Homo sapiens: one gene and its partner. The protein of the gene in region 1 purifies or fractionates together with the protein of each later gene. This does not show direct contact. Each region holds a gene or a part of one and is shown in the gene's direction. Other genes may lie near its edges.

Region 1 (4,106 bases):
TAGGGGTATGTGTTTTTGGGGGTGGACGGCGACGGGGGTGGGGGATACTTTCCTTCCCGTGGCGGCAACCTAGTTCGTATCTTATTCCTACAAGGTAGCGTCGCTTCGAGTCGCATGGACATTGGGGTTTAGATAATTTACCCCCCACCCAAGCGATTTAATGGCTTTTAAGCAAAAGGCGAATACCTGGATTTCCATGGGAGGGATGAGGTTTGAAGATTGGGATTCACCCCTAGCTCACTTCCACTACCAACCCCTCTTTCTTGTGAGCCACTTCCACGGGTATTCAAATCTGGGGGGGAGGGGGGACGGGAGTATTAATATGCTTCTCTATTTCTACACAGGGTCGGCGTGGCGAAGGACGGCTAGCCTTGGAGGGAAAGTAGCCACCAGTCCAACTCGGGTCGCCCCCACCATTATTTCGGTGAGGGGGCAACGCTAAGAAGGGGATACTGGTGGGTAGGGGCCCAGTATAAGGGAGGGGGCTGGGTAGTCGTCCCCAGAAGGACTCCGTGTCTTGGCGGGGAGAGAGAGAGGCGAGCCCCGGCTTCAGGGGAGGGGTTCCGGGGAGGGAGATGGGGGGGTGGCGACGACGGTGGGGGGGGGAGCGGGAAGAAGGGGGAGTCACGCCCTGCCTGCAAGGGGAGCCTCCCTCAGGCCCCTGGGAGAAGGGGACTGAATGCGTCTGTTCTCCGCTGCCCGGCAGAGGAGATCTGGGGTCTCGAGATTTGCACACTGGATCGGCACCAGTGGCCTGAGAAAGTCAGGTCGGGGCATAAGGTGGAGAACGTTGGAAGAAAGAGAGAGAACCCTTTGGCCGCGGCTCACTGACCCTCTCCCTTCCTCAACCTCCCCCTTCGAGGGGCGTCGAGGTGGGGGGGGACGTGGGGCTCCTGCAGCCCCGCAGATTGAGCGCCTCCGCCTCTCCCAGGAGTCTAGCTTTTTGCCCGGCTTGCTGCAGCCACTGCTGCCTCCCTCTCCGGAATCCGCTCGGTCCTCTCAGCGATCCCCTCCTCCTCTCCTCCCCTCCCAGTGTCACCGGGGCTGCTTGGCTCTGCCCCCTTCGCCGCCGCTTGCTCCCTGCTTTCGTCCCTCCCTCTCTTGCTCGCTCCCTCCCTTCGCCTCCTCCTCCCCATTCCCCCCCACCCGCGTAGGCCGCATTCTGGGAGTTGTAGTCCGGTGGAGCGGGGGTTGGCGCCGCCCGCGGACCCAGCCGGACTCCACTTCCCGTCGAGCCCTGCGACCGGCACCCACTCCACCAGGCTTCGCTCGCACACAGACACACACACACACCGCTCTCCCCCTCACTCTTTCGCTCGCCGCGGCTGCTGCCAGTGTGTGGCTCTGTCTCTCCTCCGCTTTGCTGAGCCCTCCCTTCTTCCTCTCAGTTCCTAGAGTCCGACCGCCGCCGCCGCCGAGAGAGAGGAGAAGGAGGTCGGTGGCGATAAGGGGCGGAGGGGGGCATCAGATCGGGGCAGTATTAGGCGGGTGGCGGTTAAGAGGGAGTAAGAGGGAGCCCGGGTGGCGGCCTGAGCCTCCCCGCGGAGCCGACCCGGGAACAGGTGCGTCTTTTTTCTCTCTCCCCCAATCCCTCCACCCCTTTTGACTCCCCGGCTTTTTCGTATCCCCCCACCCGCTTCTTTCTATCTTAAGCCTTTCTCCAACCCTGTTCCTTCTTTTCCCTGCGGCCGCTCGGCTTGCCCCCCGGGGGCGCCGTCCTCTTCGTGTCCCCGGACGTAGCGCTCCCTGGAGCTGGGTATGTCTTCGCCCCTCCCTTCGGGACAGCTCCCTTCCACTTCCCACCTTCGTACCCCATCCCCTGACTTGCCCTACCCCCTTCTCGACCCCCTTCTCTCTTAGCCAGGTGAGACTCGTTCGCCACGATCCAAGAGAGTCTTCTTCCCGGCTGGGCGGGGGTCTCCATGGAAACGGGGGTCGGTTGATCCTGGGGGGGAAACCATAGGAATTACCCCACTCCTCGGAAAGGGAGGTGGAGGCTATGGTCTTGTTAACTACCTGACTCCAACCCCCGATCCAAGGATCCGACGATCCGAAGGGAGGCTGGCTAGCAGGGCAGGGCGAGAAAAGGCTTTTTTTTGGGGGGGGGGGGTGTCCGTGATGAAGTGTTGAAGAGACCGGGAGAAAATGCCCTCCAACCTCAGAGGGGAGGTGCGACGGGTGCTCTTCAGGGCTGCTTTCTTCCCGGCGCTGGGGTGCGGGAATCGTAGGGTAAGGGGTACCCCTAGGTGGCGGCGGGGCCTGGGTTCGGGAGTGGGAGTGCTGTGATGGGGGCAGGGGCAATTATCCGAGTCCCTGGAAAAAAGGCGGGGGATGACTTCGGAGCGCCCTGGCTCCGCTGCCCTCGCTCTAGGGGCGGGGGCCGCCGGGCCGGGCGCGGCGGGGAGGGGGCTTAAATTGAAGGAAGATGAGATCGGGGGCAATTCATACTAGCACCGGCAAGCCAGAGGGGAGATCCGGCGTGCAAGCCCTCCACCCGCTTCGCGCCAGGCCTGGAGGCAAGGGGTCGGCGAGCGAAGCCGAGGGCTGGAAGGAGGGAGGCTCCGGTTACGGGGCCGGGTTTCGGGATCAGGGGCAATCCCCCGGCCCTTGGAGAAGGAGGGAGAGGGATGGCCGCGAACCCCAGGGCTCCCCCACCCCGGGTCCTAAGGGGCGTGAGGGACGGACAGCAGGCCCAGCGGAGCTGGATTCGAGCGGATCGCGGCCGGGGAGTGGGAGGGCTTAGTGGTGGGCTTCGGGGGGAGCAGTCCGGCGGCGGGGCGGGCGGGCGGGGCGTGGGGCTCCGGCGGGCGGCGGGGCGGGGCCGGGGGCGGCGCTGCTGCCGCCGCCGCTGCCGCCGCCGCCGCTGCTGCTCCTGCTGGGGCCGCCGCAGCCGTTGCCGCCGCCGCCGCCGCCGCTTCTGGGCGGGGAACGGAGGCCAAAGAGAGTCCCGTGCCGGGGCAGAGGGCGCAGGCGGCGCGCGGTGGGGAGGGGGCCGTCCTGGGGGCGGGGGCAGGCGGGGGGGTGGAGCCCCCGACGGGGGGCGGTACGAGCCGGGACGACGACGACGAGGAGCCCCGGGGGCCGGGTGCATGGAGGACGAGGTGCTGGGAGAAGGAAGGGGGGTGTGGGTCCCGCGACTGGCCTCGTGGGCTTGGCTCCTCGAGGTTCGGTTTCGGGACAGAGCCCTGCAGGGGCGCCAAGAGGCCGGGGAAGGGATAGGGAGGTGAACTGGTCGGTGGAGGGGGCCCTCCTCGCCGGGGTCCCGCCGAGAGGAAGGCTGGGCCAGAGGGACGTCCGGGGCAAGGCTGGGAGGAGCCGGCCGCACCTCGGCTGGGGATTTCGCGTTATGGAGGTGCGGGAGATTGTTGTAGGGAAAGACGTGGTCGAGGGGAAAGGTGGGAGGGAAACACTGCAAACCCGGGAGGCCAACAGCACAGGCCCGTGGGGGTGCCCTTCTATTCCGCTCGCACCTCCTCCCTCCCTGAGTGGAAGCACTATGTTTTTGTTTTATTGTTTTGAAATTTTCAATGTTGGCTGATCGAAACTGTCGATGGGGTGATATTCATTCTTGGTGTCTCCTGGAGTAGACAGTAAAGACAGGCATCCTTTGGCGAGCAAGCATCTAGCCCAGGGTTTAGAGGCTCTTTACGTTAGTGTGGGAAGGGGGCCCGGTAACTTTGTGCCACAGCTTGACTACTGTTAAGGCAGTTTGGAGGTCGTCCCTGTGGTACAGAGGTGGAGTACAATTGCAAAAATCTTCAGTAAGACTTCTGGAGATGAGTTGTAGGTTAGCGTTACAGTGGTTAGCCCTGTGGTTCTTTCAACTTAGAAGGCTCTTTCTCAAAAGCACGCCGTTGAGTTACATGGGAAAATAAATGTGGATTGCATTTGGGGTTGGGAGTGGATTAGGTTGATTATAAAATTTCAAGGTTGGAAGGGAGTTTTAAGGTTATTTACTTTTCTGTTGATATGTCCTGTCCTTGAATGTTGGAATTGAGGGAGCTTTATTTTGGGGAAGATGGTAGATGGCACAGTGGAGGATGTCTGGTGCACAGTTTAGGGTACTTTAATTGAATGGTGATGTCACCATGTGGTACTAAAGATGA
Region 2 (3,500 bases), on another chromosome or scaffold:
CCCATATTTGCAAGCCCTTTACAGTTGGAGGCAAAAATCAAAGCCCTCGAGGGAGGGAGTTAAAGGGAGGGAGGGAGGAAACGTGGGGCACTGATTCCCTTTGTGTAACCAGGTAAGCCTGAGACAAGCAGTGGGCTGGACTCGTCCTGCCTAGCGCTGTACTCCACTGCCAGGCTGACATGCTTGGCCCTGTTTACTCACTCCACAGCCGTGTTTGACCGGGAACAGCATACCCTCAACCTCCCAGCAGTCAACAGCATCACCTACGTCCTCCGCTTCCTGGAGAAACTCTGCCACAACCTTCGTAGTGACAATCTGTTTGGCAACCAGCCCTTTACACAGACTCACTTGTCACTCACTGCCATAGAGTACAGCCACAGCCACGACAGGTACCTACCAGGTAGGAGCTGGGATGGGGCCTGGGCTGAGAGTGGGGGACAGGGCTAGCAGCAGCACCTGCAGGGGCCCAGGGTCAGCCTTCAGAACTACTGGCCTGGCACCTACTATCTAGAGGTCTGCTTTTCTGTCCCTTACCTTTGCCATATCTGAGACTTCTCAGCCTCCTCTCATCTTTACTTTTTCTTCAGGATTTTGTTTTCTGTCTCTAGGATCACCCCTATTTCTTCTAGATCCTTATCCCTAGATAAAAGGTGGTTCGCAATTCCCCTTCTGAGTTTCAGACTGCATGTGGAGCCACCAAGAAGTCACAGAACGTCTCCCAGTGTGAACCTGGCAGCAAAGGCCTAACACACATCTCCCTTGCCAGCAGGAAGGTTTAGTCTCAGGCTACAGATTGAGAAATTTGCTCCCTGGTGATTGGCCATCTATTCTTTCCTTTGGCACATGGCCCTAACTTCCAGCACTGCCAGTCTAGCAAGTCAATTCAAGTTCCTGCTATTTCTAACTCGGCTGGAAAATAACTTTCTTAGTTAACATACCAGACCCACAATGGGAAAGCAGATGCCACGTGGCCAAATCAGTGACTAAGTACTTCCGAGAGAGATTAAAGATTCAATGGAACTCTGCGTCTCTCATCTGGAACCCAGGACACAGAACAAGGGAGGGAAGAAAAGCTCAGCCTTAAACATAGCAAGGTAGGTCATTACTGAGAGGGAGGAAAGGCCCTTAAAAAAGCCCTGCAGATTGTGTCCTGAGCAGAGAAATAGGGAGGGGTGCTGCCAGTGTGAGTGCTGTGCTGTCTGTTGATGGGAGGGCACAGGTCTGAAAGGTGTCTTTTCCGACCTTCCTCTACACAAACAAGTCTTGTTCCCACACTGCCTTCCCTGGTGTCTTTTCATCATAGTCTTAACAGAATCACCTCCGATAAAAGCACTGCTTCTAGAGAATGTGCCCAGGGAAGTGACTGTTCCCCCATTCTCCTTCCCCCTTTCCCTCATAGATACTTCTGTACCCAAATCCGTATTGCTTATGTGACTTGCAAGCAGGTCAAAAAGATACCTGAATTTTAAATACTCTGTGGGGGCCAGACCATCTGATCCCTGCAGCCATTTCTATGATCCCCTGGCTGATCCTTTTCTATGGAGGGAACTTCTCCTCACCTAACCCATGCTAGATTGCTTTCTTTCAGTACCAGAGTCTCTGAGAAAAGAAAAAGGCATTCTGACTTGCAGTTAGAATGTTGCACTGGGAGTCTGGACTGGGCATGGTAGAGCTGGTCCAGACAAAGGCAAGTTTTAAATACCTCCAGTTAGGCATTCAGGAACTCTGATCTACATTTCAGACGTGAAAGTTAGGCCTACCTGGGATTCTGAAAGAATGGATGCATGAATGGGGGTTAGCACATCCATGAATGTAGCTGCTAGTTTAAAAAGAGATTTCTCAAAGAAATAGGAACTCCGAATTCTTAAATGGAATGCCATCATTAAGAAGTGAGAGAAACATACTGGTAGCAGCATTCAGAGACTGGTAAGGATGTACCTCATGGGCCTGCAGTCCCAAAAGTGGTTTGGGACCGGGGCATGACCTTTCCTGGGAATTCTGCCCCAATTTACATCTCTCTGATTCAGCCACTAGATAAGAGGAAGCAAACTTTAGCCAGACTCTTCTTGCCTCACCAACTAAGAGAAACAAAGACCAAGGTATCACATTCTGCCATTAGCTGCTACCTCTCCCTTCCCCATTTTCAGACAGATTGAGCCCACTTTTTGTGTCCTCCTCTGCTCTTAAGCTGTTTCTCATCGTGGGTGCTCAGCAACTTGTCTGCTCTCACTCTAGTTTCTATTTGCTTCCCTGAAATTAGCCTTTAACTATGCCCAGACAAGCCAGAGCCTTGCCTAAACTTCTAATTCCTCTGTGCTTCTTAGTGTATCCTTTCTGCCTGCTTGCCTGCCTGCCTTCCTGCCTGCTTGCCTGCCTTACTGACCCTTTGCCCCACCTCTGATATTATCATTTCCTGTGTTTTTCTGATTACTTACCTAAACCTCTGCCAAAGAGCTCGATCTGTACAAGAGCTGTCTTTTGCTTTGCCCTTTGGATCTGGTATTTATGACTCCTGCCCTTCTGCCTGGCTACACGCTTCTGCTAGACATACATAGGTACCACCTCTGTTATCTGGGTGCTTACTGGCCCTCCCCCTTTCCTATATCCTTGTCTCCACACTACCCTACCACTTAGAGTCCTGGCCCAACTGACCATGCACTTCCGATATAGCAGGTAGTCACCCAAAGCTCAGGGAGATTTCATATCCCATTAAGCTTTCCTACCTAAGTTGAGACTACTACTTTTTTCTCCAATGTTTTATTTTAAAAATTTCAAACCTACAGAAAAGTTACAAAAATAGAACAATAAGCAACCATGAACTCTTTGCCTATCTTTACCACTTTTTGCAGTATTTACTTCGTCTGTTTCTCCTAACTATATATACACATATAAATATACATACTTGTTGAATACCTGTATATTTAAAATGTTTTTCATTTATTTACTGAACCATTTGAGAGTTAACTGCAGATGAGAGATTTTATCCTTAAATACTTTTGTGTTTATCTCCTAAGAATAAGGAACATAATAGTATTATTATGATTAAGAAATTTAACATAAATAAAAACTAATGAGGCCAGGCGCGGTGGCTCACACCTGTAATCCCAGCACTTTGAGAGCCTGAGGCGGGTGGATCGTGAGATCAGGAGATCAAGACTATCCTGGCTAACATGGTGAAACCCCATCTCTACTAAAAATACAAAAAAAAAAAAAAAAATTAGCCGGGCGTGGTGGCAGGCACCTGTAGTCCCAGCTACTCAGGAGGCTGAGGCAGGAGAATGGCGTGAACTCGGGAGGCGGAGCTTGCAGTGAGCAGCGATTGCGCCACTGCACTCCAGCCTGGGCGACAGAGCGAGACTCTGTCTCAAAAAAAAAAAAAACTAATGAAATTTAACATTAATAAAATACTACTAGGCCAGGTGCGGTGGCTCATGCCTGTAATCCCGGCACTGTGTGATGCCAAGGTGGGCAGATCACTTGAGGTCAGGAGTTCAAGACCA

The links.
Region 2: the proteins of BCORL1 (region 1) and SCMH1 purify together in Homo sapiens (affinity purification with mass spectrometry, with the first as the bait; one large-scale study listed by BioGRID). This does not show direct contact.

Annotation. Positions count from the first base shown.
Region 1 is NC_000023.11:129,981,329-129,985,434, forward strand, and holds the start of BCORL1 (BCL-6 corepressor-like protein 1), read left to right. Parts: upstream 1-1,306; 5' UTR 1,307-1,434; exon of another isoform or gene 1,435-1,562; intron 1,563-3,057; exon of another isoform or gene 3,058-3,101; intron 3,102-4,106. UniProt on the Homo sapiens protein: Transcriptional corepressor. May specifically inhibit gene expression when recruited to promoter regions by sequence-specific DNA-binding proteins such as BCL6.
Region 2 is NC_000001.11:41,043,307-41,046,806, reverse strand, and holds part of SCMH1 (polycomb protein SCMH1), read left to right. Parts: intron 1-208; coding exon 209-400; intron 401-674; exon of another isoform or gene 675-1,094; intron 1,095-2,916; exon of another isoform or gene 2,917-3,500. UniProt on the Homo sapiens protein: Associates with Polycomb group (PcG) multiprotein complexes; the complex class is required to maintain the transcriptionally repressive state of some genes.